4 linked regions of the Homo sapiens genome follow. The protein of the gene in region 3 interacts with the protein of the main gene of each other region in a pairwise test. Each region holds a gene or a part of one and is shown on either strand. Other genes may lie near its edges.

What was found.
Region 1: the proteins of PPM1B (region 3) and AATK interact in a two-hybrid assay, tested with the Homo sapiens proteins (one study listed by BioGRID and IntAct).
Region 2: the proteins of PPM1B (region 3) and ROR2 interact in a two-hybrid assay, tested with the Homo sapiens proteins (one study listed by BioGRID and IntAct).
Region 4: the proteins of PPM1B (region 3) and PTK7 interact in a two-hybrid assay, tested with the Homo sapiens proteins (one study listed by BioGRID and IntAct).

The regions. Positions count from the first base shown.
Region 1 is NC_000017.11:81,162,269-81,170,551, reverse strand, and holds the start of AATK (serine/threonine-protein kinase LMTK1), read left to right. Parts: upstream 1-4,330; 5' UTR 4,331-4,559; coding exon 4,560-4,614; intron 4,615-4,804; exon of another isoform or gene 4,805-5,045; intron 5,046-8,283. UniProt on the Homo sapiens protein: May be involved in neuronal differentiation.
Region 2 is NC_000009.12:91,750,674-91,758,946, reverse strand, and holds part of ROR2 (tyrosine-protein kinase transmembrane receptor ROR2 isoform 1 precursor), read left to right. Parts: intron 1-1,387; coding exon 1,388-1,675; intron 1,676-2,845; coding exon 2,846-2,876; intron 2,877-8,273. UniProt on the Homo sapiens protein: Tyrosine-protein kinase receptor which may be involved in the early formation of the chondrocytes. It seems to be required for cartilage and growth plate development. Phosphorylates YWHAB, leading to induction of osteogenesis and bone formation.
Region 3 is NC_000002.12:44,199,025-44,207,297, reverse strand, and holds part of PPM1B (protein phosphatase 1B), read right to left. Parts: intron 6,113-8,273; 5' UTR 6,099-6,112; coding exon 5,253-6,098; intron 1-5,252.
Region 4 is NC_000006.12:43,155,517-43,162,691, reverse strand, and holds the end of PTK7 (inactive tyrosine-protein kinase 7 isoform a precursor), read right to left. Parts: intron 3,876-7,175; coding exon 3,724-3,875; intron 2,905-3,723; coding exon 2,726-2,904; intron 1,972-2,725; coding exon 1,811-1,971; 3' UTR 977-1,810; downstream 1-976. UniProt on the Homo sapiens protein: Inactive tyrosine kinase involved in Wnt signaling pathway. Component of both the non-canonical (also known as the Wnt/planar cell polarity signaling) and the canonical Wnt signaling pathway.

The sequences.
Region 1 (8,283 bases), on a different chromosome or scaffold from region 3:
ATCGGGGGTTGAATTGTGTCCCCCCAAAATATGTTCAAGTCCTGACCCTGATACCTGTGAATTGGGACCTCAGTTGGAAGTAGGGTCCTTGCAGCTGTGATCAAGAGGAGGCCAGACTGGAGCAGGGGGTCCTAATGCAATGACTGGGGCCTGATAACGAGAGGAGAGGACGGACACACACACACGCACAGACACACACGCACCTACACATATGCACACACATGCACACACCCCTACATACCAACACAGACACACATATACCAACACACACAGACACACCTATGGATATGCACAGACATGCACACACACCTGTGTACACATACATGCACACATACCAACACACCTACACATATGCAAAGACACATGCACACACACCTACACATGCACACACACCACATATGCACACACATCCACACCAACACACACATGCCTACACATATGCAGACACACAAACCAACACACACCTACACATATGCACACACATACACACCAACACACATGCACACACATGCCAACACACCTACACATATGCACATACACATGCAGACACACCAACACACACACATGCACACACATGTACACATACCAACACCGACACACGTGCCTACACATATGCAGACACACATGCACACACAAACCGATACACACCTACCTCTATGCACATATGCACACACCAACACACGCAACTGAACATGCACACACACATATACCTACCAAGACAGACACACACAGACACACATATACATACCAAGACACACACATCTACACATATGCACAGACACACATGCATACACACACATAGACACGTACACACACACGCACACGACTATGTGACGATGCAGGCAGAGGTTGGGGCTGCGCAGCCACAGGCCCAGGAAGGCCTAGGGCCACCAGTAGCCGGAAGAGGCAGGAAGGACCCTCCCCTGGAGCATCTGGAGGGGGCGACCCCGCCCACACACACACATCTACACATATGCACAGACATATGTGCAGTGGCGCCATCTCGGCTCACTGCAAGTTCCGCCTTCTGGTTTCAAGCAATTCTCCTGCCTCAGCTTCCCTAGTAGCTGGGATTACAGGCGCCTGCCACCATGTCTGGTTAATTTTTGTATTTTTAGTAGATACGGGGCTTCACCATGTTGGCCAGGCTGGTCTCGAACTCCTGACCTCGCGGTCCGCCCCCCTTGGCCTCCCAAAGTGCTGGGATTACAGGCGTGAGCCACTGCGCCCGGCCGATTACTGTTTTTAACAATTTTATTGAGATATAAGTCACATGCCATGAAGTTCACCACTTTAAAGGGTACAGCTTAGTGTTTTAGCATCTTCACCAGGGTGGGCAGCCATCACCTCTAGCTAATTCAGGGAAGTTTCCTCCCCCCAGGAAGACGCCCTGTGCCCCTTCTGCACTGCCCCCACTTGCCCCTCTCCCGGCTCTGGCCCTCCACCTGTGCTCTGTCCCGTGGATTTGTCTGTTCCAGACATTTCATACAAGTGGAATCACACACTCTGTGGCCTTCTGTGTCTTTCACTGAGCATATTTTCATGTGTCATCCATGTGGTAGCATGTGTCATGCATGTTATAGTGTGGTCAGAGCTTTGGTCCTGTGTATGGACCAATACCATTGCATCGTATGGACAGATCACATCCTGTTGATGGTTTATCTGTGGATGGGCATAACTGCTGAGTTTTTGGGTGCCCCCTAAACTTTGCTCCTGAGGTGCGTTCCTCACTCTGGTCTCTAATCCCCAGACCCCCAGGCTCTCTCCTGCCCCTGCCCCCTCTTTTCCACCACACCTGGGCTTCCTGCTGGGTTCTTGGCCTTTTTCCTCTTCGACGGGCAATGCTTCTGCACCGACACTCTCCCAGCCAATCTGGGCTCCTCGGTCAGCTCCTTCTGGGCTCTAGAGAGTCCCAGGGGCGGAGATCATGCCTTCCCCCAGGCCGGGGGATAGCAGACAGCTATGTCTTCAGGGACCTCTTACCCAGAGGTGCTCACTGATCCTGTCCCAGCGTGGGCAAAAGCCAGCACCTGGGGGGCCCCACTAGGGTCACGGTCAGTGGAAGCATCTGAACTCCTGGTTCCAGCGAAATCTCAGAGGGCCCTGTGCTTCCTGGAGAAGGGGTGTCGCTCTGGTTACGTAGGGTGGGAGTGCTGGCTTGGAGCCCAGGGGCAGCTCCTCCCCTGTCCTTCCTGGAGCCCCAAGAAGATCCACAGCTTGAAGCCCCTGAGCTGTGGCCCAGCCACAAGTGTACATGTGTGTGTTCACAGGCAAAACTGAGAGGAGCCAGCCCCTGGTCACAGCAAGCTGTTTCTGGCCCTGGTCATCAAGGCAGGGACACTGAGGGCATGGAAGTTCTGGACAGAAACTCTCCCCAACATGCCAACCAGCAACCACCCACGGCCACTGGCCACCTCCCCCTGCCTAGGTCCAGGTGTCTAGGGCACCTTCCAGGCTGGGCAGAGGAGGGCACTCCCTCCTGAGCTGGGGAGGGGAGGCCCTGACAGGGGACCCAGAGTGGAGACTCATGAGGGTATGCCATACCCTCTGTCCCTCACACTGGAGCACTCCAGGATCACAGCCTGCTGGCACCAACCATCCCTGCCACTGGGTGGGCACTGATCCTCCCAGCCCTCTGGGCTCCCTGAAGACACAGACTGAACGAGGTGGCCCAAGGCCTCTGAGTGCCTCCTGCGGGCAAGGCCCCCTTCAGCCACTCTACCCACGCGGCTTCTTTACCTGCAACGGCAGCCTGGCGGCAGCGCCCCTTAGAACCTTGGCTGGCCACATGATCAGGGCCAGGAAGAAGGCTCTGGGTGCCCTGTCTCCTTCTGCCCCAGGTGCAGTTGGTGTCTTGTCTCCTACAGCCAGGGACCCCTAAGGTCTGAGGGCACAGGGTGGAGGCCCCTTGCTTTGCCTGTTAGGAGGAAACTTCCTACATGAGGGACCCCCTTAGGAAAAGAAGGGTGGGTCCTGGTGCCCATCTGCCCCGTGGCCCAAGCATCCTGTCCTGGTCTCTGCAGGTCCCTCTGCCGGGAACAGGCTCCTTTCTCTCCCTAAAGTCCTAAGAGCCCTGTTGGAGTGGGCGCCTCTCACCTGCTCCACAGCCCCCAACCCCAACTGGGCCTTGCCAAGGGGCTTAGCCATCTGGTCCCAGAATGAGTGAGTGAATGAATGAGTGAGTGAATGAATGAGTGAGTGAATGAATGAGTGGATGAGGGTGCATCAAACTCAACTGCAAGTCTCCAGGACACTTTTTTTGAGACAAGATCTTGTTGTCACCCGGGCTGGAGTGCAGTGGTGCCATCTTGGCTCACTGCGGCCTCTAACTCCCAGGCTCAAGTGATCCTCCCACCTCAGCCTCCCAAGTAGCTGAGACTACAGGTGAGCGCCACCATGCCTGGCTCATTTTTCTAATTTTTGTAGAGAAAGTGTCTTGCTATGTTGCCCAGGCTGGTCTGGAACCCCTGAGCACAAGCCACCCGCCTGCCCTGGCCTCCCAAAGTGCTGGGATTACAGGCATGAGCCACTGGGACCAGCTTCCACTGAACTTTAACTCTCCCGACTCCCACGGGGGCAGGCTGGGGGGACCCTGCCCCGCCCCAACCCTGCAAGGTGGCACTTTGGGCGGGGATGGGGGATCCTGGGAGAAACATAGGGGAAGGGATGGCCCCTCAGCGCCCAGGCCAACCTGCTGCCCTAAGCACCTGGTACAGTCCACGGCAGGTGGAGACTCAGCCAGGTTCTTCCTTCATGGCTGTCGCAGCACGGTACAGGAGCAGGCCTGTGTGCAAAGCCAGCCACCCCCACTCCACCAGCACAGGTGCCACCCAAAGGGCATGGGGTGGGGGGGCGGCTGCCAGCCGCCTCGAAACCTGCAAGTGAGGCGAGGGCCCCTGAGCACCAAGACCCGCCCTGGGTGTGCTCCCGGGTTCCCCCACCTGTCTCCCTGAACCTTTCCACCTAGGAGTACCCCCTCCCCCACCCCGGCGTTCCCTCCGTACCCACTCACGACTTACCATTCACGACTTCCGTTTCCCCCCCCCCCGCCAGCCTCCGTGCCCCCCTCAGCCCCAGGCCGCCGTGCTTCCCGCTCCGGACCATCCCCCCACTCCGTGCCATCCCCGCTCCGTGCACGGCCCCCCGTCCCCCCTCCTCCATGCCTCCCCTCCGTGTCCCCCCTCCAAGCCCCCTTCTGTGTCCCCCACTCCGTGCTCCCCTCTGTCTCCCCCTCCGTGTCCCCCTCTCCGTGCTCCCCCCATGCCACCCCGGCCGCGGAGGGCCCCCCCCTCCCCCGCGCCGCTCCGCGCGCGCTCCCGCCCGCGTTTTCGGACTGCACCAGCGGAGCCCCGCGGCGCCAGGGCCGGGCGGAGCGCCTCGTCTGTCGCCGCCGCCCCCACCGGTGCGGGCTCTGCGGCTGCGGCGGGGGGCGCGGGGCGCGGGGGCCGGCGCGCTCCGCACCTGCGGCGGCCGCTGGGTGATGCGGCGGCTCGGGCCGGGGCCGCGGGCGTCCTGAGCGCAGCGCCCTCCCGGGATGCCCGCCGGCCGCTGGCCCGGCCATGTCGTCGTCCTTCTTCAACCCCAGCTTCGCCTTCAGCTCGCACTTCGACCCCGGTGAGTCCCTGGCGGCCCGGCCTGCGCGCCGCTGCCTCCCTCCGCTGCGGACGTGATGCCCCTGGGCCCCACGGCTCCCGGTTTGCATGGAAATTAACCCTTTCCCCGCCCCGAGCCCAGCAGCAGAAGCAGCCGGACCCCCTGGCGGCCCCAGATCTCGGAGGGGCAGGCCCTGGGCCCCAGCACAAACCGGCCTCCGCCTGTGGGCTGGCGTCCCCCGCGTGGTCGTGACTCCGTGGCTGCCTCCAGGGCACAGGTAACTGGGGCACGGAGGGCCTGCGTGGGCCCCTGGTGTCCAGGAGAGTTGGTCTCAGACTAAGGGCCCTTGGGGGTGTGGGGGGTGTCAGCCAGCTGGGGTTCAGGCTTTCCATGGCCTCTCCTGGGTCCGGGGCCCTGGCGTGGGAGGCTTCTTCCCAGGCTGGGAGCGATTCTCAGAGCCCTGCCCAGCCACCAGCAGCCGGCGGGGGATGTGGGGGGAGCAGGGGCCAGTCCACATTACAGAGCCCAGTGGGCAGAGGCTCAGAAGAGAGGGGCCTTGGTGGGTGCCCAGATCCCCTGACAGTGGGGGCCCGAGGTGACGCTGTCAAGCTGGCTGCAGGGGACCTGAGGCCAGGCCTCTTACCCCGTATGGCCAGTGCACCGGGCAGGGCGAGATTACCCATGGCTGCCTGGCCTCCTGGCTGTGGTGGACAGCTGGGATAGGCAGAGGGGGCTGGGGACAGCTGGAAGCCCCATCTGTCACCAGGAAGCAGTGGGCTTTCTAAAACCTCTGCTTCTCCAGATCCGGCCCCTGCTTGGCCTGAGTGGGAGATAATCCCCCTGCCCTGTGCCATCCATGGCCCCAGGGCCAAGTCCCACCCACACGTCACTGGGGCTCTGGCACCAGGCTGAGCCAGCCCAAACAAAGCCTGTTTGCATGTGACGTGATCTCCTGTGTCTCCTTCCCTGGAGCAGGGCCCAGTGCACGCAGCCTGGCAGGGAGGCACGGGGGTCCCCGGGGCAGATCTCGGTCTGAAGGCATTTGCTCCCTGGAGGAAGGGAGCTGGTGGGAGGTCTGTCTGCTGGGCTTAGGGCTGTGGGTGTCACTTGCTCAGAAATGACTTCCTGTAGTGACCCCTGGGGCTCGGAAGTCCCTGTGGGGTGGGCAGGTGAAGGCTCAGAGCCCAACAGCCACGGCAACAGCTGTAATGTCTCCCCGGCCCAAGGGCAGGGGGTGGAGGAGGCTTGGGGCAGGTCCTCATCACATCTCCATGCCAGGCGTGGCCCACGGTGCTTGGTCCTTTCTGCCCCCAGAACAGAGAGGACCCTCGGCCCATACCCTGCCTCGGGGCCCAGCCTTGTCCTTGGCCATGAGAGGCCCTTTCCCCCGCCTTCGAGCAGCACCGGCTCTGCCCTTCTCTGGGTAAACAGCTGTGATCTGAATAATTCTAATGTGTCCGTTTAATGACTTAGAGGAAAAGAAGTTGTTGGAGGCAAGGGGCGTCTCTCCTCTGCAAGATGCTGGGCCAGAGCTGCAGGCACCTGCTGGGCTCTGGGGCCCACCTACCAGGAGGGGCTGCCCAAGGTGCTGGTGCTGGTGAGGAAGGAGACCCTCCTTCGGATTAAGGGGCTGGGTCTAGGCTCTGCACCAGCCCCCATGAGAGGGTTAGGGAGGAGAGAGGGGTCTCCTGCCCTCCCGCTAAACTTAGCCCAGCCTTCCAAGCCTGGCTGTCCTGTGCTGCAGTCCCTCTGCCTGGCCTTGCCTCTGTGAACCTCGGTTTTCCCATCTATGACATGGGCCGACAGTACCTGTGGCAGGCCCGGGTGGGCTCAGTGCTTGGTGAGCACTTGGCTGTCTGTGCTGGAGTGGTGGTGCTGGGACAGAGACCCCCAGGGCCCAAGCTTCCTACAGCATGTGGCTGGCTCCTTGCCATCCCCGAATTGGAGCGAGCTGGTTCCTTCTGAGGCTGCTTGTGTCTGTGGGGGGGCACCCAGAGGGGAGGGGCCCACGCTTGTGGCTCTGGCAGTTGGCTTGTGTGTCACTCAGCATCTGGGGCAGTGCTAGCACCTGACATGGGGGTCTCACCTCAGTTGCCAGGCCCTGCCCCGCTGCCGGGCCGGCTCCTTGTTCATCGCAGGAACTGGTGCCAGTCTCCATAGAGGTGACGGCAGTTGTGGTGGTACAGGGGGCAGAGACGCCCGATAGTGCAGGGCCTGAGAGTGGAGGCTGTGGGCACAGACTGTGGGCTGCCTGGGCCCCTGACCTTCCGCACCAGGCAGATGCGGGCAGGGCAGGGGGCACCCGGCCCAGGAGCCTGCTTGAGTGCCAGGAAGAGCCGCCTCCTCTGGAGCCCAGCTCTTCCCCCATCTCCCTGACACTCGGGAGCGTGGCTGGGGGATTTCTTGGCAGCTGCAGCCTTCCAGCCTCTGTGCTGTGTGGCCTCGGACTACTCACCCAGCCTCTCTGAGATCCGTTCTGCACATGTGAAATCTTGCTCTGGGGAGACTAGTGTGGGCATGGCGGCCAGGAAAAGCAGGGTGATGGGGGTGACACATGGGCAGGATGGCCGGGTCCAGGCTGGCAGGAAGGGGGTGGCATGGCCTTGAGCGAGCAGAGGTCACCCCTTCTACCTGAGTGCCCCAAGGGAGGGGGCTGGCCTTGTTGCTCACCCTCCCCAGCCTTCACCTTCCCTGGTGCGGCCTCAGGGCGTCATGATTTCTAGTCGTCCTGAGCCCTGGGGCCTGGAGCTGTCCTAGGCTGGAAGTGGGCATGGGGACACCGCCTCGCTCCGGCTTCTGGAGAGGCGCGCTCAGCCTGAGGGTGGGGGTCAAATGCTCTGCACAGTTAGGAGCAGGGGTTTGCCCTGGGGCCACCTCTGGTTTGCTGAGGGGCCCTTCTGTGACTGGCTCTCCATGCCTGTTTTGTCATCTGTAAGGTGGGAATGGCTGTGATGGCCAGGTCTGAAGGGACAGCAGTGGTGCACTGAGCCAAGGGTGGGTACCTGGGCAGTGCCTACCATGGCTGATCCCTGACGCAGAGGTGTCACTGTTGACCAGTGGGCAGGGCTTGGAGTTTGTGGAAGTTCTCGGAACACGTGGCAGCCTGGATTTGCCACCCCCCAACCCCCGCCTCTCCCCTGTCCCTCAGCTCACGCCCTGTCTCCTGCCCAAGGTCTCTCCCTGTGTCTGACCTGAACCAGGCGCCATGGGGGGTTCCTGGGAGAAGTGCCTGTGCCTGGCCACGGTGCTCGCTCTATCAGCATTCATGTGAACCGGACACCTGGCACAGGGCTGGGCAGGCTGGGCCTCAGGATGAGCCTATTGATGGGGAGAGGGCAGAGGAGGCAGCGAGCCCCGGGCCAGGCATGGCCTCAGTGGCAGGGGCAGGGCTGGACTCAGGGGCTCAAGGGGCTGAGCAGGAGGCCATGGGCCTGGGTGGTCCCCGGGAGTCCTCCCCTTGGAAGGTGCCCCACAGCTGACACTGCCCGGGCACCAGGTGTGGAGTCTGTTTGAAGGCAGCTGCTGCTTCAGTCTCCCAGACCACTCAGGCTCAGGCAGCAAGCACCTGCCCTGGGAGGAGTTACCTGTCCTCCTCTCGCCCCCGGGGTCTCAGAGGATGCCCCAGAGGAAGCTGTGCCCATGAGTTCGGCCCATCCCCCTACTTCCTCTCAGGTCTCAGGTCTCCCACCG
Region 2 (8,273 bases), on a different chromosome or scaffold from region 3:
TTCTTGTCCAACATTAGTTTTCCCTACATGTTACATTAACAGAATTGTATTTGCATGTTCCTCTTAAGAGACGGAGTAGTTCTCCAGCCTCTTGACCACACCACACACCTGCGTGTGCAGGCACACACATACATGTGCACCACACAAACACCACACATGCATACTCACACACATCCCTCCTCCTTTGTCCCTTTCACTTCCCCTTGTTCCCTGTAGCCTTGCGTTGCCCCCTAGAGCTCCTGCCTGTGGCTGTACTGGGCTCCCCACTTATCAGGGCAGTGTTTCCAGCTCCTATTTTAGGAGCAGCCCACTCACTCCCCATTCTGGGTGCTTTAAGACCCTGTGTGCCCCCTAGTGTGTGTGCGCGGGACTGCTTCTGTCTGCTCTGGACCTGGGTGCAGCAGGACAAAGCCTTCAGCTCCCCCTCATCAGCATTGTAACTTCTGTTCTATTTACAGGACTGTGATTAGCTTGGTTTGGGGATGTCCATGTTTTGTCACACATCTTTTTTTAATATTTTACTTCTGTGGCTTTGTGCTTAATGATATGGTAGGCAAGGAGGAGGGACTTTCTGAGCGTGAATTTACATCATTTTGACCAGCCTGGGTTAGATGTAGTGTTTGGAAAGAGAAGCACAGTTGATCCTCATCATTTGCAGATTCCGTAATTGTGAGTTCACCTAATACCTAAAGTCTATTTGTAACCTCCAAATCAATACTTACGGTGCTTTTGTGGCCTTTCACAGACACACGCCCACGGCAGTGAAAAATTTGTGTCCCAGCTGGGGCTAAACAAGGCGATGGTCTGCTCCCTGGTTTCTGCCCTCATATTGTGAACATGTGGCCTTTTCTTGGTCTATTTAGTGCCAAGTTTCTTGCATATTTGGGCTTTTTGTTGGTGATTTTATTGTTTATGATGGCCCCCAGGCACAGCACTGAAGTGGTCTGGTGTTCCTAAGTGCAAGAAAGCTGCGACATGCCTTATGGAGAAAAAAATGTGTGTGAGAGAAGCTTCGTTCAGGCATGAGTTATGAGGCTGTTGGCCATGGGTTCAATGTGAAGGAATCAACAGTACACATTGAATATGGTGTCTTTAAACAGAAACACACATAAACCAAGGTTATGTATTGGTTGGTTGGTGAAAGTATTATGACGAGAGGCTCACAGGAATTTGACTCTGTATTTCCCATAGGAGCAGTGGTTCAGTATTCACTAATTCAGTGTTCCCTGTAGCTTTCTAGAAGATAATTACCGCAGATAACAACCTATTTTAGTAGGTGACAAAAATCGAAACCTTCCCTTGGAAGAGTTCATAGCAGAGCCCCCAGGTAGCCCTTCCTTCCAGCCCTCACTGACGCTTGCTCTTTTGTGACCGCTCTCCTTGGCAGGTTACTTTCTGAATTTTCTGGAGCCAGTAAACAATATCACCATTGTCCAAGGCCAGACGGCAATTCTGCACTGCAAGGTGGCAGGAAACCCACCCCCTAACGTGCGGTGGCTAAAGAATGATGCCCCGGTGGTGCAGGAGCCGCGGCGGATCATCATCCGGAAGACAGAATATGGTTCACGACTGCGAATCCAGGACCTGGACACGACAGACACTGGCTACTACCAGTGCGTGGCCACCAACGGGATGAAGACCATTACCGCCACTGGCGTCCTGTTTGTGCGGCTGGGTGAGTTGGACAGTGAAATTGTGTGGGTTAGCAGATATGAAGGTTCCCAGCCACCGAGCAAGAGGTCCAGTTGCTATTTGAAACTGAACACACACCAGTCAGCACGAGGGGAGAGCAATGAAACCGTTCCCTAGGGCCTTCCCCATGTGCCCCAGGGCCCAGCTTGACCTGTTACCCATTTACTAGTAATAAGAGAAAATAGGGCGAGGCACGGTGGCTCACGCCTGTAATTCCAGCACTTTGGGAGGCCGAGGTGGGCGGATCACCTGAGGTCAGGAGTTTGAGATCAGCCTAGCCAACATGGTAGTAGTTGGCCAGTTTAGTAGAAACTCCATCTCTACTAAAAATACAAAATTAGCCTGGCATGGTGGCGGGCGCCTGTAATCCCAGCTACTCAGGAGGCTGAGGCAGGAGAATCGCTTGAACCTGGGAGGTGGAGGTTGCAGTGAGCCGAGATCACGCCATTGCATTCCAGCATGGGTGACAAGAGTGAAACTCTGTCTCAAAAAAAAAAAAAAAAAAAAAAAAGAGAACAAAAAGAAAATAGGTGCAGATGGAGAGGTTTATGGACCTGGAGCCCAGAAGACAATCCCAGGCACACACGAGGAGCTGAGGTGTTTAGCAGGAAGGCTGTTTGTTAGGAGGTCAGGTGTCAGTGGGAGAGTGGCCACACTGCAGGACGGCTAGGTAGGGCCCGAGGCTGACCTGGCTGGGGTGGGGAGAGAGCTGAGTGCGATGACCAGAGATTCTGAGTCTCTGTGCTCGTCACACCTGGTGAAGGAATTAAGTGGCAGGAAGGACTGTGTCCCCCTTCATCCCACCTGTGAAAAACTCCCAGGCAGCAAACGCCCCGGCCCTGCCACCGAAGCCCACGCCATCCGATCATAAGTAGTAAAACAGATTTTGTGTGTAAAGACTAGATGAGAAGAGAGAGAGTAAGGACAGCAAAAACTCCAAAAACAAAGATATCCTCAGTGACAAAGCACCCCTTCCCTTGTGTGTGGTTTCCAGCCTTGCTGACGTAATCACGAGTGGAGCCTGAGGCCCGAGGACAGCTGCCCACCAGTGAGCCCGCTGGCTTCAGCCTGTTTGCCACTGGCCTGATTTGAAGAAGGTTGTATTCCAAATCATGGAGTATTAATAACTTGTCTTTTTGTTTCCTCTTTTTAGGTCCAACGCACAGCCCAAATCATAACTTTCAGTAAGTATCTGTTTTCCCCAAGCCGTGTTCTGCTGCTCTGAGGGTTTTTGTTATGTAGGAATCCGGGGTTTAAATCCTGCCAGCTCATGTCTTTGCCGAATTTGCTAGAAGTTGGCTGGGCTTCACACAGGGGTGGCCACGTGCTTGCTTAGGGTTGGGAAACATTTACATTTTTCATGTTTCTTGTACAGAAAAAAAGTCAGAAAAACAAAAATGGTTAATTTCTTTCTGTGATTGTGACCTTACACAGGGCTACTGAGAGGAGTATAAATATACAGGCCAGGTTGCCTGGGCACCAGGAAGGATACCGGCTCATTAGGACATTGGGAAACAGGGACGTAATTCACTCTGAAATCCCAGCACTACCAGCTGCAGTTAATAAATGTGTGCCCCTGAGCCTTGGGCCACCCCGTGGCAGTGGGTGGGAGTCTCAACCCCACCTTGCAGATGAGGAGACCGAGGCTCACAGCCAGGCTCACACTCCTTCACGAGCTGCTGACAGCAGTGGCTTTGAACTCAGGCCTCTGGTTTCCCAGTACGAGGTTATTCCACTGTGGCCAGGCTGTCTTGGGAGAGTCCCCTCTGAACTGCCCACACTCTCCCATCGTGTACCCAGAGGAGTGCTCATTCCATTGCCGGTGTTTGAGATGAGCAGTGACTGTCCGGGTTTCCTGCATTTCCTCCTCAGACATATTGGAGAGCAGTGCTTCACTTTGAGATGTTCTGAACAATAGCATGAACACTATATGGTTGGTAAAGTGTGCAGTGTTGGCTGATTTCTGTTTCCCTGGGCCTTGTACCCATTACCCACCCATGATGTGCTGCAACACCACGTTGGGAGGCTGGGCAGGGCAGCGACCTGTCTCAGCAGACATCAGCAGCTTGCTTGCAGAGGGCAGATTTTTTTCCCCCCCCAAATAGACAGGCCTGGCTTTTCACCCAGACTGGAGTGCAGTGGCACGATCACAGCTTACTGTAGTCTTGTACTCCTGGGCTCAGGCCATCCTCCCCCTTCAGCCTCCCAAGTAGCTGGGACTGCAGGTGCGTGCCACCACACACCCGGATAATTTTTTCTTATTTTTTGTAGAGATGGGGTCTCACTATGCTGTCCAGACTGGTGACAAACTCTTGCCTCGAGCAATCCTCCTGTCTCGCCCTCCCAAATCACTGGGATTGTAGGTGTGTGCCACCACACCTGACCTAGAGGGAAGATATTTGGGAAGATTCTGTGCTGAGCAATAGTGATGGAGCATTTTTCCTTAATAGTCCTTCAGACACAGAGTAAGGAAAGAAGAAATTGCATCATGAGCACAATTATGGGGCTTTGGAAAAAGGCATATAAGTCATTTCAAAAGTTGAACTATTGTTCTCTCTTATTTTATATTTATGTCTTTTATTTTAGTTATTTTATTTTTTGAGACAGAGTCTCGCCCTGTCACCCAGGCTGGAGTGCAGTGGTGCAGTCTCCGCTCACTGCAACCTCTGCCTGCCAAGTTCAGGCAATTCTCCTGTCTGAGCCTCGAGTAGCTGAAATTACAGATGCGCACCACCATGCCCGGCTAATGTTTGTATTTTTAGTAGAGACGGGGTTTCACCATGTTGGCCAGACTGGTCTCGAACTCCTGACCTCAAGTGATCCGTCCACCTTGGCCTCCCAAAGTGCTGAGATTACAGGCATGAGCCACTGCACCCGGCCTATATTTATGTATTTTATAAATAAAACTTTTATAGTTCATTTATATATAGTTACATAAATATATTATGTAACTATATAATATATTGTAAATACATAACATATAATTACAGAGCTATAATTATACAAATATTAAACATTCATATATTTATATACAAATTGTAAATATATATATTTATATAAATTATTTCACAATATTTTTACATTGACTTTCTTCTCACTTTAAGTTATGGATTTAATCCACACATTGATGTAAATGACTGGGGCAGTTTCGGAAAGTCCCGCCTGACCTCCCATCCTTCCAGGCCTCCTGCCTCCCTTGTCATAAAGGTAAATCATCCAGGGAGTTTGTAGGCACTCAGTACATACATACATCTACCTAAGGAAATACAAAACAATCAACTTGAAAAAAGGTCTAAAAGCACATAAATTACTCAGTATTATTGAGGCAATGAAGAAATATGCTTACCTATACACTATTGATGAGAAATTTCTGGAGTGCTATTTGACAATAAACACAAAAATATTTTTAAAAAGAAATACCTCTTATCAGTTTTATATACTTTTTTACATAAATGATGCTATACTTGACATGTTTAGTTAACAGTATTCACAGAAATCTTTCCATCTCAGTGTATTTGAGGTTTCCAGATGCTCTCTTTCCCTGTTTCTGGACTCATGTGCAGAGCATGTGACTGTTCCATTGTGACAGGCATTCCCATCAGGGAAGCCTCATCCCAGCCACTCGTGCCACCGCGTCTCCCTTCCCTGGCCCTGAGACCTGTGGCTGGGTTTCTCTAGGAGAGATTCTGAAGAGGAAAAACTAAAGGGGCACAGGCATCCCCTTTTTAAAACTGATACTGCCAAATGGTCATTCGTAGGTTACTTTCCCGACAACGTCAAAGGACCCATTTCTCCTTATCTTCCATAAGATGACTTCCAAACTTGTTAACTTCTGCCACTCTGAAGGATGAAAAATGAATAAATGACCTGCTTTGTTCTCCATTTCCCTGGTTACTAGTGAGGCTGAGCATGTGGACACACATTGCTTGGCACTCATGTCTCCTCTTTGTCAATTGCCACTTCATATTCTTCGCTCATTTTTCCTTTACATTGTTTCTTAATGAATTTTGATAATTCTTTATGTCTTATTTCTTGATCATATAGAAATTAAAACTTTTACAAATTAATAATTTGTTTTTCATGTTATGTCTTGTTAAAGAATGTCATGATTTCCTTGAAAGATTCTGATGGTAGTTTGATTGGAATTACAATGAATTTTTAGGTCAGTTTGGTGAGAATTAATATCTAAATTGAATTTTCTTATCAAGGACTACTTTCCTTTGTGTTTTGAGGTGTTTTCTTTTTCTTAACATTTTATAATGAAAAATTTCAAACATACGGTTGAAAGAATTTTATAGTGGGCTCCTGTATACTCACCAGCTAGATGCTAGCATTTACATTTTACTGTGCTAACTTTATCACTTATCGTTCCATCCAGCCTCCATCTGTCCATCAATCCATCTGATTTTTCATTCATTTCACTGAGTTGCAGATACTTGTACATTTACCCTGAAATACTTCAGCATATATATCATTAATGAGAGTTCAGTATCTGTTTATGATTCTTGCTCCTCCTTCTTCAGTTAAAATTTGCATACCAGTGAAATGCACACATCTTAAGTATAGCACTATAAGGTCTGACAAATGCATAAATCTCTGCAATCGAAACACCCTATCCAGATACAGAATCTCTGTCACGCTTGCAGGCTCTGTCGTGCAACTTCCTAGTCAACTCCCTTCTACCCCAGGCACCCACTATTCTGATTTTTTAAGTAATGGACTAGTTTTTCCTGTTATTAAACATCACAGAAATGAAATCCTTCAGGATGTAGCCACTTAAGCCTGGCGTCCTTTTAGCATAGTGCTTTTGAGATTCATCTGTGTTGTACATGTATCAGTAGGTTACAGCTGTTTATTGCTGAATAGCATTTTATGGTATGAACATACGCGTTGATTTATCCATTCTCCTGTTGAAGGACACCTAAGCAGATTCCAGGCTTGACTACTATGAATAAAGTTCCTTGTATAGGAATACTCTATACTTTTTGTGGACATGCATTTTCATTTCTGTTAGTGTTAACTAGGCGTAGAATTGCTGCATTATAGGGCATGTGTGTGCTTAATTTTATAAGACATTCCTGGGCCTTCTCCTGAACTCTTTTTACCTCCACCCACAGTGTGGGAGACTTGTGATGACTCCACATATTTCCCAACATTGGTGTGGTCAGCCTTTTTAAGTGTAGCTATTCCGGTGTATGCAGTGATTCAAGTGATTTTTTATATCATTCCAGCCTCTTGAAAAAGCAATTTTTACTAGTCATTTTTAAATTTTCAAATAAATGTATTTAAAGCTGTAAAGTTTCCTCTGAATACCATCTCCCTGCTTCCACCACGCATTTAGGCTTCTGTTGTTTGATACTGTTTTCTGATTTTTGTTGCATTATTATTAGTGAATATGGGCTGTTTATGTTTTATTCTTGATAATTTATTGAGATTTTTCTTTGTAACCAGTTAGATACGGTCCATTTTTGTGAATCTTGCCTGTTGTTTCAAAAATACGTGTGCTTTGATGTATCTGCACATTTCTTGACTCATCTGTGAGATTGAGTATTAAGTATGTTATTAAAAATATCTATATATTTTTTATCCACATGAGTACCAGATACCTGAAGATTTGTGAAAGTCACCCACACTCAATCTGGATTTGCTAGTTTCTATTAGTTCTCTATTTTTAATATTTTGTGTGTATTTTAAGGTTATATAGGTTTTTGTGGGGTTTTTTGGTTTCTTTTTACAGTCCCTTTTAGTGCTTTTTGCCTTGAATTCAGTTTTGCCTAACAATAATAGAGTTCCACATGCTTTTTAAATTTGCATTTGCCAGGAACCGTTTTTATGATTCCTGTCCCACTCTTTAGTCTTTCACCTTTTTGTGTTCTGTTTTATGTAGGTCTCTTGTAAATGATGCATAACTAGACTTTTTTTGGGAGGTTGATGTGGAGACCTTTCCAGTCTGAAAGTCCATGTTAATACATAGTTAAATTCATTTTAACTAATATACAGTATTCCATTCTGTGAGTCAGTTTCCACTTGAATCATGCATTGACTGCCGAGTGAAGGTTAGTTCTTTTCACTGATAGGGACCCTCTTATAGTGACTGTGCATCCCAAGTCTCTTTGTCCCTATGGGTGAAAGTCCTCCAGGGACAGAGATCAGGAAGCAGGATTACGGGTGTGCATCTCCCACCTCTCCCAGGAATGGCCAGATTGCCCTCTATGATGGCCAAGTCATTCATAGCCTCACCTGCAACACATGAGTTATTATTTCCTCATGTTTTCTAGCACATGGTATTATCAGAACTTAAAATGTTGCCAGCATCTTAGGTGTCAAATAGTAATTTTACATTACATTTCACCAGTAAATAGTGAGGTTGAACATCATTTTGTCGTTCTAAAAGCCATTGCATTGCCTGTGTGTATCCAGCCTATCCTCATTATTTTCAGATTCCATATTTGCAAATTTGCTTATTCACTAAACTTCGTGTCCCCCAAATCAACACTCGTGGTATTTTCATGGTCATTCTTGGACATGCACAGAGTGGAGAAAAACCTGAGCTCCCTGACACATGTTTCCAGCTGAGACTG
Region 3 (8,273 bases):
ATTATGACTAGAATCTAGGCAGGCATGGCTCGGTTCAGACTTATGCCTTTCAGAACCTACATGACACAGCCCAAAAGACAGGTGGCCTTGAATAACTTCTGCCTTCACCTCCTAATTCAATGGGAGTAAAGTTTGAAGGCAGTGAAGGTTGGGTCTTCAGAAGACTTCAAAATAAATTAACTTGTCACAGATTGTTGTGCTTTGGAACAAGGAACCAACTTGAGTATTTCATTAGATTCCCGGTTATCTGGAAAAACCATTTCCAAATTGGCCAAATTAATTCATTCCTTAATGAAACCCACCAAAACTTTTATATTAGAAATACTGTATGTGTTTGGTTATATGAATATACTTGTATAAATGTCATAAGGGCAGTTCAAGCAAAAATTTTTAATTAAAAATAATTTTAAAGTACACCATGGATATTCAAGAATCAAACAGCTGGGCATGGTGGCTGCCTGTAATCCCCGCAGTTTGGGAGGCTGAGGCAGGAGGATCATTTAAGGCCAGGAGTTTGAGACTAGCCCGGGCAACACAGTGAGACACCCTTTCTAAAACACAACAACAAAAAAAGAATCAAGCATAATTACACTTTATAAAGCAATTTTATGCATAAACGGAATTAACACCTTACACTTTTAGAAATCTAATTTCTTTTAACCCTTTTGAGTTTTTGGTAACAACAACATGAGCATTGTGGAACATTTCCTTATCTAATTTCCATTCGATTTTTGTAAGTTATAAAATATAAATACTTTTGGAAAATTAATTGAAAGAGAGTTCCAATAAATTTATGGTTCTCCAAAGACATTTAAGGGAAATAATTTATATTTACATCTCAGGCATGTGTGATTTCAGTGATGTTGCTTCTTAGCCACCTTGCCTGGCTTGCTTCTATTTCTATGTAAAGATGGCTTTCCCCTAAACACCAAGTATGAATATGTTTCAGTAGCTGTTATACAGCAACAGAAAAGGTCCTTTCCTTTGTGCCATTGTTTTTTAGAGACAAAACATCCTTGTATAATCAGTATAAAGTTTTCACTAAGTCCATAAATAAAACATTTTTTTTTCTAAATCCAGTTTGGATAACTAAAGAAATTAGCTCTGCATATAAAAATTGATTATTACATGTTCTTTTTACTTTTTACAACAGCACAGCAGTTAACACTCTTAATAATCATAGTACCAGATCAAAGACGCCAGTGCCCCTGCCATAAATAAGGGCATCTAAACTTAAACAGAAAACAATCTGATACAGTTTTTTGTTTGTTTTTGTTTTTTTGACACGGAGTCTCACTCTGTCGCCCAGGCTGGAGTGCAATGGCGCGATCTCAGCTCACTGCAACCTCTGCATCCCAGGTTCAAGCAATTCTCCTGAGTTTAGAACTAAACAATTATTGAGGGGGTTACATTTTCTATGTTATATAAATTAATATAGAATGATGTTGCCTTTGGAAAATGATAATTTCCCTCAATTTTATCCAACTATGAGGTACTATCTCATGTTTTAAAATAAATAGGCTTCTGGTAGATGGTATATAAATGAAATTTTGGAAAATCAAATAATGTTTTAAAAGAACAATTTAAAAGAATACCGACTTTTATAATTTAAGAAAAACAAAACAGGTGACAAAGTAACAAACATAGCATGATCTTTTTCTATAAAATACAAAAAAAGAAAAAATCCTATTTTACGTTTATACATTTCTATCAATAATCACAGAGAACCATTTGGAAAGATATACAGCAAACCATGAGCAGTGGTTCCCTAAGTGAGATGAGACTGGAAAGCAGAAACATCAAGGGGAATCACTTTACTTCAAACATCTCTGTATTTGTTACAAAAAAAATTTAGTCTTAATGTTTCCCTTGGGGAAAAATTTCTCAGACCATGAAAACCGAAACAGACAGACACTTACACACACACACACACACACACACACCCACACCCACACCCACACCCACTCTTCTTTATTTTATCAGGCCCTTCTGGGAAATATTGTTAACAAAAATACTAAACTTGAGTCAGAAAACTAGTCTCAGCCTCAATACTCACCAAGTATATGACTTATGGATATCTTTTAATATCAAACAACCTCCATTTCCTTACTTGCAAATTAAAAAAACTTTTTATTTTGTTCACCTCAGAAAGTTACTATGAGGATTAATAAGTATGTATCATTTACAAGTTATGAAAAGCTATGCACGTGGCAGTTACATATTTTAAGCAACCCGAAATTAGTTGGCAGTAAACACCATAAATGCCAGCATTGCAAATAAAATGGGAGGGTTGCTTTCTTAGCTCCCATTCTCCCCTCGAGTTAAATACCTAATTTAAATAGGATAATACCTGACCACAGTCATACAACACTTACAGATTAATATTAACTGGCAACCCTGAAAAATGCTTATCTTTTTTTTTTTTTTTTTTTTTTTTTTGAGACGGAGTCTCGCTCTGTCACCCAGACTGGAGTGCAGTGGCGTGATCTCGGCTCACTGCAAGCTCTGCCTCCCGGGTTCAAGTCATTCTCCTGCCTCAGCCTCCTGAGTAGCTGGGACTACAAGCGCCCACCACAACGCCCGGCCGATTTTTTCTATTTTTTAATAGAGACGGGGTTTCACTGCGTTAGCCAGGATGGTCTCGATCTCCTGACCTCGTCATCTTAACTACCTCATATGGTTGTGAAAATTACATGAGTTAAAATATGTAAAGTATTTAGAATAGTGTTTGGCTTACAGAAAGCAATAATTTACTAATACTACCACGATTATGATTATGATAACCTCCCAAGATTTAATGAGTTAAGATAAAAGTGCTTATAAATTATGAAAGTATGACAAGTGATGGAGGTGTTAGAAAAAACTAGGACTTCATTTAAATCTCTTATCAGGGAAACATCTACTTATTAATGTTTCCTCTCCTCTTACAGCAGGTAACTACTGTGCAATCGCTAAGTGCTTTCCATGAATTTTTAACTTACAATTTTTCTGAGTAAATTCAAAGTAATTATATTTGATCTTATTGCTAACCCTTGCTTTTACAATACAAATAAATGGAAAGACAAAATTACGAAGTTAAACAGAAATGAAGGTTTCCATAAGTAACTTTCAAAGGTTCAAAAATAATTTTAAGTCTGTTTTGTTTCAATTCAAACCTCCAAACTGATTTCAATTTGAATGCAGCTCCATTAGAAGGAACTATGATGGTCAGCTTCCATTAACATTGAATGAATCATGGGCCCCAACTTCTTGTCTGTTATTATCATTCCTCATTTCTGAGATTCTAGGATGCCATCTAGAATCTTTTAACACCATCAACATGAACATTTAATCACTCTAAATTGATAAAAGCTAGCAAGTGAAGATATACCACCAGAAATATTTAAACCTCATTCAGAAGGGTCGAGTCAAAATTCTCAAAAACTAGCATCCTTTCAATGGATAAGTGAGTTAATCTACTAACACAAACTTCTTTCCTTAGTCCAAATTACAGACCTAATAGATTTTTTGGCTATTCCCTCACAACCTCATTCTTTCAATAAAATACTACGCAGCCAAGAAAAATGATACAGATCAATACTTATAGGCATGGAGATCTCTCTACAATATATTGTTGGAAAAGGCAGGCTGTAGAATAACAAGTATAATCATCTCGGTTTTATAAAAATACACACACTCACAGGCAGGCAGAAAAGACTGGAACAATATACACCACAACAATGAAAGTAGCTGACTTAGGGTGGATGGCAAAATTTTGGGTGTTTCTCTATATTTTCTTCATCATCTGGATTTTTTTTCCAATAGTAAGTATATACCTTTTTTTTATAATTGGGGAAAATGCTGTTTTCATTAGCTAGTCAGGCAACAAACATATGCCTATGCTTGTCTCAAAAATCTACAGGTCAGAATTGCTTCATTTAGAGTTCAAAGACAAATACATAATTTTAGACCCACTTACTATTTGATCACTGACAACCATCAATACTTCTTTACTTAACTCATCCAGAAGTAAAAAGATACAGTGTGTTAAAAATAAAAATCAGAGGAGCTAGAGGTACCATCATTAAAATCCTTTCAGAAAAAGGCTGTCCACTGACAAGAACGGCCTTTAAATCTTCTGTTTTTAAAACTGCCTCTTTCCATTCTATTAAAAAGAAATCGGTATTTAACCAAAATCTGGGCATTTCCAGAGACCCAGAGATCCTTTCTGAAAAACTTTCTGGTTATGCCCATACCTTCCACAGTACATTTTGGAGTAGGGAGATACAGTGGTTCTAATCTAGACAGAATAAATAAGTCAAACCCTTTATTTATTTCATGTAACTAAAGGTCAGTTTTACCTTGGTATCTTTTCAGTCAAATACTTACACACTCCAGACACTGGCCAGATAACTCAAATTTTAATTGAATTATATATAGATGCTGTCAAAAACCCACTTGAAACAACTGAGTATTTTAAAGATATTCAAAGGATTGCCAATTATCTATTACTCTGGACTTTTTTTCTATTACTGTATCAAGCAATGATTCATACAAAATTACAAATCTAAATAAACTTTAGTGTTCCACAGGAATTTTTCACAAGATTATGTTTTATAGAAGCCTTTGGTTTTTAATCAGAAATAATAAAAACATCTATATGAAAAGAATTTTATCTTCTACAAAAGATACTATCCAAGTCATGTATTACTTAGAGAGCCACATGTAAATCCTTTTTAGATTGTATTGCCAGATAAGAGCTGCTTTTAGAAGACAATGAGAAATATACAACCCATATTTTTATTTCAGTTTTTGTCTTCACTGCTAGGAGGCTCAGGACTAAATTTTATACAGGCTAGGCATCTAGTACATCTTCCAATATTTCACATGGCTCTTGATCTTTTAGTAATATCTAGTACAGAATTCTACTATATACATATTTTATCAAGCTGCTTCATAATCAGGCATAAGATGGTTACTGCCAATGTCAAGAAAAAGTCACTCTGTGTAAATGCTTTTGCTACAGCAACAAGCTATGAAGTACTTAAATGACAACAAATGCCTCAAATTTATCAAGCTTAATTTTCAAATTAGAAGGCTGGGACAAACAAGGATGGCAAAGAAAACAATGGTTTCATTTCTGGTAAAGTACTTCAAAATATACAGCTTCTGTGAAAATATTAAAAGTTTTAAAATTTTAAGTTAGCTTAACTTTACCTACCGTAACTTTTCAAAATTAACATGTTATTTTAATGACAAAAAAGTTTACATACCTTGTGTAAACAAGTGTCCACTACCCAATTGCACACATTTTCCAGGTCATCAGATACCTCAAGCCTAGATTTAACATATTCACAGAGCTCCTCATTACTCATAACATCCCAGATCCCATCACAAGCCAAGATGATAAATTCATCCTCTTCTGCTCTTAAAATTTCATAAACCTCAGGCTCTGGAGAAACAAGTTGTTCTGTTGGGCCCTTGCCATCAACACACTTGTAATCATAGTCCCCCAGAGCACGAGATACTGCTAATGAACCATTAACACGTTGTATCATCACGCTGCCTCCTGCATTTTGGATTCGCTCCTTTTCCCTTGGATTGCAAGGTTTGTGATCCTGGGTAGAAAAGCAGACTTGTCCATTCCTATACAGAACAGCACGTGAATCACCACAGTTGATAAAGTAGATATGCTTAGGTGAAATCATAACTCCCACTGCAGTTGAACCACTCCTGTCCATCCCGTTTCTGAGGTCTGAAAAGTTACGCATGTATTCATCAATTTTCAAAAATCCAGTTCTGATACCATTCTTAACATTTTCCACTGAAAGCTCAAGAGCAGATCCTGATTTTCCAGCTGCCCTAAAGTCTTCGTTAGTAGTGATGTGTTCTAATAAATGTGTTGAGCAGTAATTTGCCACTCGGGATCCAGCATGACCATCATAAACTGCAAAAAATGACCAGTCTTCCAAGCCGTGAGGAATACCTACAACAGCTGTGTGTGCATCTTCCATTTCCACTCTCCATCCTTGCATGCTGCTCAGGCCATAACGTAAACCATTCCCAGCACCATGAGCATTATGTTTTTCAGTTTTGGGTTTATCCAAAAATGCACCCATGTTTAGCAATAAATCTGAAATAAAAAATGCAGGTGTTAAATGTTTAAATTTGACAGAAAATGTATGTACAATATTCCCTCTATAGTCTAGTAACTCCTACCTCAAGTATTTTTTTTAGTATTATCCTAATTTACGGGAGCAACAACAAAAGCCCAAGAAATTTCCTCCCCTACATCCTACAGAACAGTGGTTTCTCAGCCCTAGCGCGTAAGAATAATCAGACCAATTAAATCAGAATCCCTAGGGATGGGACACAGATATCATCTTTTAAAAGCCTCTCTGGTGACTTGTATGTGCAGCCACGTTGAGACCACTGTTCTAGGAGAAAGGAAAAAACAAGAAATAAAACTTCATTAATAATTTCATTCTGATTTAATTTACAAGGTGAGTCTAGGGTTCGACATGTAAGTTTACAGAAGACTGGACAATGAGAATATTCAAAACAGTGAGTCATCTTGTTCAATAAATCAAGGTAGGAAGGTATACTAATATACTTTAGAAGACTTTCAAAAGCAAGTATTGAAATCAAGATTTCTCCTCCCAGTGAACCTAAAGACAACCCCAAAATTCAATTAAAACATAAAAATCTCCATTCTACACACATTTGGTTTTATCACTTTTACTATATATCTATAAAACTGAAAACCTTATCATTACTTTGATTCTGTTAAAAACATACCTTTAACATGGTGCTAAAAAATGGACTTCACTTTGCTGAACTTAAAATCCATGAAGTAGCTACCCAGTGTTGACTGACAAAGACTTAAAATCCTTAGAATTGGAAAGTACTACTATGCATCACCCTCTCCCCGCCTACCCAACTTTACTATTTTATAGAATAAAGCTTTCCCAATTTCAAATGACTTAGATTAGACTTAGAGTAATGGTTCCCAAAAGTATGCAAAAGAATTCTCTGGTATGTTTTCTACATACAATGCTAACCCTACACTCTAACTAGGTGACCTTGGGCAAATTTCTTAGTCACCTGTACCTATACCTCATAGGGCTGCTGTGAAGAATGAGTCAATGTAAAGTGCTTAAAACAGCACTTAAAACACAATAAACACCATAAAATGTTTGCTGTTATATCTGCTCAAAATGCAGACTCCATAGCCCTATTCCCACACCTAAGGATTTTTTTCAATAGATCTTAGATGGAATCATCAAAAAAGCATGCTGGTGATTTAAAGTTTTGAGAGACACTGGTCTAGATCAATTTACCTCCATTTGGGTCTACGTATCTTTGTGAGATTTTTTCCAGGTATGATCATTATTGAACTTTACAATAAAATTACATATCGCCATTTAAAAAAATCTGATGAACCACTCGATATATATATGTAAATATTTATAAGTTACATACCAGTTTTATAATTTTCCTGGGTTATATGTGATACTGTATTAATAAATTACAAATGTATTTATAGAAAAAGAGTCCTGAAAGGATAAGATTAAAATCATGTAAAAATTATTTTTCATTCTATCAGTAGAATGTCATATTTTGTACTGAGAGCAATGTAACAGAATATGCTTGATTACTTTTGAACATGCTGGTTTAATTCTCTGTGATACAATGATTTTAAAGCCTAGTTCTAAGTACATTTTTATATGCTTGCTTGTATAGGCTATTTCATCTGAAAGGCAACTTTAAAAGATACTTAAATGCAAATGAAACAGAATTGTTGGCTGTATTTACTAAATCACTTTTCTTTCTTTTTTGGGGGGTGAGGGGATACAGTCTCACTCTGTTGAATGGTGCCATCTCACTGTAACCTCTGCCTCCCAGGTTCACAAGCCATTCTCCTGCTTCAGCCACCCAAGTAGCTGGGACTACAGGCACGTGCCACCATACCTGGCTCAATTTTTTTTTTTTTTATTTTTATTTTTTTTTTTTTTGAGATCTACAGGCACGTGCCACCACACCCGGCTCTTTTTTTTTTTTGAGATGGAATCTCGCTTTATCGCCCAGGCTGGAGTGCAACGGCACAATCTCGGCTCACTGCAACCTCCGCCTCCCAGGTTCACACCACTCTCCTGCCTCAGCCTCCCGGGTAGCTGGGGTTACAGGCACGCGCCACCATACCCAGCTAATTTTTTGTATTTTTAGTAGAGATGGGGTTTCACTATGTTGGCCAGATTGGTCTTGAACTCCTGACCTTGTGATCTGCCCACCTC
Region 4 (7,175 bases), on a different chromosome or scaffold from region 3:
CTCACTATGTTGGCCAGGCTGGTCTCAAACTCCTGGTCCCAAGTGATCTTCCTGCCTCAGTCTCCCAAAGTATTAGGATTACAGGTGTGAACCACCATGTCCAGCCTGCTGTTATTTTTATTATTCAGAAGTTTGGTGAGGAGTAAAGGAACTAGAGCAGTTTTGGAGTTCAGGACTCGTTTCTTTTGGATGGTGAACCAGGCTGAAGTTACTGGAATGAGGCAGAGGATAGGTGAGGACACAAGATCCAGGCATTAAGCACCGTCTCTCTGCTTGGTTCTACCTACTTCACTTCCCTCCTAGGGTCTTGAAAGGACTCAGAGACCTGAGTCTGTCACTAACTCCTTCTCCAATCCTACTCTAACTTGCTCCCCTTCACGCTTCTACCCTCCCCATCTGAGCACAAGGATTAGGCCCGTCTAGGTGACAGTCAGAGGACAGCACAGGGTTGCACAGACAACAGGTGATCTTGCCTTCTTCATGCCTGCATGCTCACCTGCCCTGCAAACTGGAGAGAAGAACCAATATCCACCGGTTCATCCTGTCCAAGCCCCACCAGACTCCATGAAGGCACATGGCCCTTTCATTTTTCTCTTTTTTTTTTTGTTTTTTTTTAGACAGAGTCTCGCTGTCACCCAGGCTGGAGTGCAGTGGTGTGATCTCGGTTCACTGCAACCTACATCTCCTGGGTTCAAGCGATTCTCCTGCCTCAGCCTCCCAAGTAGCTGGGATTACAGGCGCCTGCCACCATGTCCAGCTAATTTTTATATTTTCAGTAGAGACAGGGGTTTCACCTTTTTGGCCAGGCTGGTCTCGAACTCCTGACCTCAGGTGATCCACTGGCCTCAGCCTCCCAAAGTGCTGGGATTACAGGCATGAGCCACTGCACCCGGCCTGCACACGGCCCCTTCTCATCAGCGGGGGAAAAAGGAACATCTTCCACGAGCAAGAGCAGGGAATGAATCTCAGAAACAGGTTGTAAAAAAGGCTTATTTATTGAGAGCAGCGAGTGTAAAAACAAAAACAAAAACAAAAAAACAAAACAAACAAAAAACGACAACAATAAAAGTGTGGGGTAAGGATGGCCCACCCTCCTCATCTCCAGGGCCCACCCCTACCTCCCATGCCCACCCACCCCACGCTGCAATTACATATAAAAGCCGCCCGTGGTGCATACAAAAAGGGCGGTTTATATAGTGTCAAAAGCTCCTGAAAACTCCTTCATCTGCCAGGCACTTAGGATGAGGAAAGGAGAGAAGGGTGGGGAAGACGTGGGTCTGGGTCAGTGTGCACAAGCCCAGAGTGGGGAGGACTCACTTGCTGTGTCCTCTATAATCCTGGTCTAGACCCCCAAGTGGGACCAGTGGGCCAAGAGACTCATTAACCCTGTGTGCCCAGAACTTGAGAATATTAAGGAACTCCCCACAAACCCAGCTCATCCCAAGCCTAGCCCTCCCCAGGCAAAGTTGGCAGATGAGTGGCAGAGTTGGACCCGGTCAAGGGGAGAAGTTGAAGGCCAGAAATTGGGGTTACCTGTGGCACCCACACTGTCCCTGATAGAGGAAGAGGTGGCAGGGAAAACTGCCCAGCTCAAAGCCCTAGTCGCCCAGTTTGGGTCCAAGTCAGCCTCCCAAAGGATGAGGGTGAGGAAGAGGAGGAAAGGCCAGGCCCTGCTCAGACCTCAGCAATGCCTGTTGCACTAGGGCAGGGGCCTCAGGGCCCAGGAGGACAGGGATCTTGCCCATCATGCTGTGAGCTTCCCTCTAGAGATGTCCTCCCCTGCCCAGGCCATCCTGAGCGGGCTCCCTCCTCACGGCTTGCTGTCCACGGTGCTGTCTCCCAGGGCGCTGGCAATCTCACTGAAGGAGGGCCGGTCCTTGGGGCTGAGGGCCCAGCAGCGCTGCATCAGCCGATAGAGTTTGGAAGGGCAGCCCTCGGGCTGAGGAAGTCTAGCCTTCCCAGCCTGCAAATCTGTAGGGAAGACAGCAGGTGCAGTGTTGGCCAAAACATTCAACAACTTGTTCAACACTTTGTGGACCTTGCAGTTTATACAAGCAGCCACCCAAGGATGCCTCTGGGGCAATGCTGGCCAGCGGCAGGTGGGTACCCGCAACGGAAAAAGATGACTCCCCTGGCCCCACTCACTCTGGCTGGTAGGACGGGGTCCATGCATAGGAGCTGAAGTGGGCTGGCGGACAGGCGTCAGAGTGGCTGGAGTGGGCACTGGGGGCAAAGGCTATTTACCAACCAATATAGAAGTATTGCAGTATTTTCGGCCAGGTGTGGTGGCTCACGCCTGCAATCCCAGCACTTTGGGAGGCCGAGGCGGGTGGATCACAAGGTCAGGAGTTTGAGACCAGCCTGACCAACATGGTGAAGCCCCCCCATCTCTACTAAAAATACAAAAATTAGCCAGGGAGTGGAGGTGCGTGCCTGTAATCCCAGCTACTAGGGAGTCTAAGGCAGGAGAATCGCTTGAACCCAGGAGGCAGAAGTTGCAGTGAACGGAGATCGGGCCACTGCACTCCAGTCTGGGCGACAGGGCGACACTCCGTCTCAAAAGAAAAACAAAGTATTGCAGTATTTTAACAACCAGAGTGGTTGTATCTGTGTGCCTGCTCAGTAGCAGCCCTGAGAGGGAGGTAGGCTGAACCAGCCCTGGGGCCCTGAGTAGGCCCCATCTGGGGCCCATCTGGAATCATCCCCTAGCAGCAAGGCTGCCTACCTGCCAGTACTTCATCATCTGCCTGCCCACCATGGGGCATCTCTCCATGTGTAAACACTTCCCACATCAGCACACCGAAGGCCCAGACATCAGACTTGGTAGAGAAGTCACCCTCCAGGATGGCCTCGGGGGACATCCAGCGCAGCGGCACCCAGGCCTGGCGGAAGTGGTAGTACTCACTGCAGGAGAGAAGCAACCCAGGGGTGAGGTGGGGTGGGAGCGTGGCCTGGCGCTGCACCCTCATCTCCCCATCTGGAACGCATCCCCAAGCCGGGGGCCCAGCCTTTCTACATACAGACATCAAGAAATTGGTCACATGCGTGCTGAGCATGGGAGTACACTAGACAAAATCTGGAGGTAACCACACGAGAGGTTTGATGGTTAAAAAATTTCCATTAAGAATCAAACTTTGCCTAAATGTTAACAGAAAAGTTAATAGTCATACATACTTTCTATATTGGTTGTAAAAATGTAAAAACTAAGAACTGTTAAATGGAAAGAGCTTTATTAGTGATAAACCAATCCTCACTACAGCTATAGTCAGACAAATGGGGGTGACCTGGAACCAGAGGGACTCAGGGTGATGTTCCCGGCAGCGCTGCAGAGCCCTCGTAGGCTGTCTAGAGCAAGCTCTGGCATGGGTGCTGAGGCATAAGTCTCAGACTTCAAAATAATAATGACTGAATTCAGGAAGTTACAGAGAGAGCCATATAAATAGATTATATATAAATCCTTATCAAATTTGCCTATTTTTTAAAAAAGGTTTATTTATTTATTTAATCGCTAGAGACATTTTACAACCACCAAGGGTGTGCACTGGGTGGGAAGCCTGCTGCACCCTTGGAAAAAGGATGAGAAAGCTCTTCCCTATCCCAGGCCCTCCAGCTTTGGACTAAGCAGGCACTAAACCCTTTCCCACACCCCCCAAACTATCTGTCCTCTGCCCCTCACCCTCTGGGAAAAAATGGGGAGCCCCCACCCCACGCATGCCCTTCTACCTGTTGTACACATCCTTGCTGAGGCCCAGGGCAGACACCTTCACTTGTCTCTGGGCACTGACCAGGCAGTTACGCGCAGCCAAGTCCTTATGCACAAAGCGGTTGTTGGACAGGTGCTCCATGCCCAGGGCTACCTGGGTGCATAGGGCCACCTGGAGAGATAAAGGGGCCTGTTAGAGCAGCCCAGGAATAGGCATCAAGATGACCACCCTCAACACAACCCTTGGTAGCGTTTCAACACTATTGGTGTGCTGCGTAGGAAGCCCAGAAGCACAACAGCCTCAGCTTCCTTCTCTGTAAAATGGGGATAATAACAGTACCTGCCTTCCTGGGTTGTTAGAAGACTGAACTAAGCAAACTAAAGTGCCTGACACCATGCTGACACACAGCAAGTGCCAGATTAAGTGAGTGGCACATGGGCCTAAGGGCACATACATAGTAACCACTTGTCCAGTGAAAAATAAGTGGGCAGAAATCATAGCTGATATTTTTTATTTTCAAGTGACAGGGTCTTGCTCTGTCACCCAGGCTAGAGTGCAGTGACATGATCACAGCTCACTGCAGCCTCTAAACTCCTGGGCTCAAGCAATCCTCCCACCTCAGCCTTCCAAGTAGCTAGGACTATAGCTGTGCATCACCATGCCCAGCTTACTTTTTTTTTTTTTCTTTTGAGACGGAGTCTTGCTCTGTTGCCCAGGCTGGAGTGCAGTGGCATGATCTCGGCTCACTTCAAGCTCTGCCTCCCGGGTTCACGCCATTCTCCTGACTCAGCCTCCCGAGTAGCTGGGATTACAGGTGCCTGCCACTACGCCCAGCTAATTTTTTTGTATTTTTAGTAGAGACGAGGTTTCACCATGTTAGCCAGGATGGTCTCGATCTCCTGACCTTGTGATCCGCCCGCCTCGGCCTTCCAAAGTGCTGGGATTACAGGCATGAGCCACTGCGCCCAGCCCCCAGCTTACTTTTTAATTAAAAAAAAAAATTCTTTACCAAGGCAGGTGGATCACCTGAGATTGGGAGTTCGAGACCAGCCTGATCAACGTGGATAAACCCAGCACTACTAAAAATACAAAAATTAGCTGGGTGTGGTGGCACATGCCTATAATCCCAGCTACTGGGGAGGCTGAGGCAGAAGAATCGCTTGAACCCAGCAGGCGGAGGTTGTGGTGAGCCGAGATTGCGCCATTGCACTCCAGCCTGGGCAATAAGAGCAAAACTCCATCTCAAAAAATATATATATATATTTCTTTGGTAGAGACGGTGTCTAGCTACGTTGCCCAGGCTGGTCTCAAATATCTAACCTCAAGCGATCCTCCTGCCTTAGCTTCCCAAAGCACTGGGATTTCAGGTGAGTGGCACCATGCCTGATCTTAGATGATATCTTTATGGGTTGTTTCTTTTTCATTTTACTTCAAAAGTCTATCTTTTCTACTAGTTGTGTTAAAAATATGTGTGTGTATGCTGGGCATGGTGACTCATGCCTGTAATCCCAGCACTTTGGGAGGCTGAGGCAGGAGGACTGCTTAACCTCAGGAGTTTGTGACCAGTCTGGGCAACATAGTGAGACTCTATTAAAAAAAAAAAAAAAAAAAGAAAAAAAAAAATATATATATATATATATATATATATATATATATATATAGCGTGTGTGTCTGTGTGTGTGCACGCACGTGTGTGTATGTGTTAAGGCATATAGACCCATATGACTGGCTGCCTCCAAGGAACGGAACTGGAGGCTAGAAGGTAGAAAGGTAAGAAAACTTCTGGCTTACATTTTTTTGTGGGAAAAAAAAAAAAAAACCACAATCCAACAATGCTAGCACTCAAGAGTTCCTTCCCAACCATATGTTCTCCCTCCCCTCAAGGAGTAACCACTACCCTGACTTTTGTGATAATTTCTTTCTTGTTCTTTGTAGTTTACCACTTACATGTTCCTAGATAATATAATTCCATTTTGCCTGTTTCAGAGCCAGATTAAAACTGGAAGCACACAAAATGTATACTCTTTTGTGCCTGGATTTTTTTTTTTTTTCACAACATTGTAAGATTCTTTTGTTTGTTTGCTTGTTTTGAGACCAAGTCTCGCTCTTGTCACCCACGCTGGAGGGCAGTGGTGCGATCTCGGCTCACTGCAAACTCCACCCCGCTGGGTTCAAGTGATTCTCCTGCCTCAGCCTCCCAAGTAGCTGGGATTACAGGCGCGCACTACCACGCCTAGCTAATTTTTGTATTTTCAGTAGAGATGGGGTTTCATCATGTTGGCCAGGATGGTCTCGATCTCGTCCTCATGATCCACCCTCCTCAGCCTCCCAAGTGCTGGGATTACAGACATGAGCCACTGTGCCCGGCCTTTATTTTTTGAGATAGGGTCTCACTCTGTCACCCAGGCTGGAGTACAGTGATGGTGATCACGGTTCACTGCAGCCTCGCCCTCCTGGACTCAAGTGATCCTCCCAACTCAGCCTCCTGTGTAGCTGGGACAAAAATGTGTACCATCAATCCCAGCCTTTTTTATTTTTGTATTTTTTTGTAGAGACGGGGGTCTCCTTATGTTGCTCAGGCTGGTCTCAAACTCCTGGGATCAAGCAATCCTTCCATCTCTGCCTCCCAAACTGCTGGGATCACAGGTGTGAGCCACTGGGCCAGCCAGGTTAATTTTTTTAAATCACTGGACATGGTCTGTTTTTCATTATAAACATCTCATATTTTAATTCTTTTTTTTTTTTTTTTTTTTTTTTTTGAGACAGGGTATTGCTCTGTCACCCAGGCTGGAGTACAGTGGCATGACCTCAGCTCACTGCAACCTCTGCCTCCCAAGTTCCAGTGACTCTCGTGCCTCAGCCTCCCAAGCAGCTGGGATTACAGGTGCCCACCATGACACCCAGCTAATTTTTGTATTTTTAGTAGAGATGGGGTTTCACCACATTGGTCAGGCTGGTCTTGAATTCCTGACCTCAAGTGATCAGCCTGCCTCAGCCTCCCAAAGTGCTGGGATTACAGGCGTGAGCCACCACGCCTGGCCTCATACTTTAATTCTAATGCCAATGGGTTGTTTCCAGTTTGGGGCTATTAAGAACAGCGTTATTATGAACACTTTTATAAGTGTACACATGTATGAGTTTCTCTAAGATACCTAAGACGAAGTCTAGAATATGAATATCTCTAGCTATACAAAATAATGCCCAACTCTTTTCCAAAGTGAAAGAGTTGGGGAGATTTTTCATTCATTAATACTCTTTTTAGAATTTTGAGCCAATGTGAATATATTATATTATACACTATATATGAAACGTAACTAAATTACATTAACTTTTTTTTTTTTTGATGGAGTCTTGTTCTGTTGCCAGGCTGGAGTGCAGTGGCCTGATCTCGGCTCACTGCAACCTCCACTCCGCCTCCCGGGTTCAAGCGATTCTCCTGCCTCAACCTCCCGAGTAGCTGGGTTTACAGGC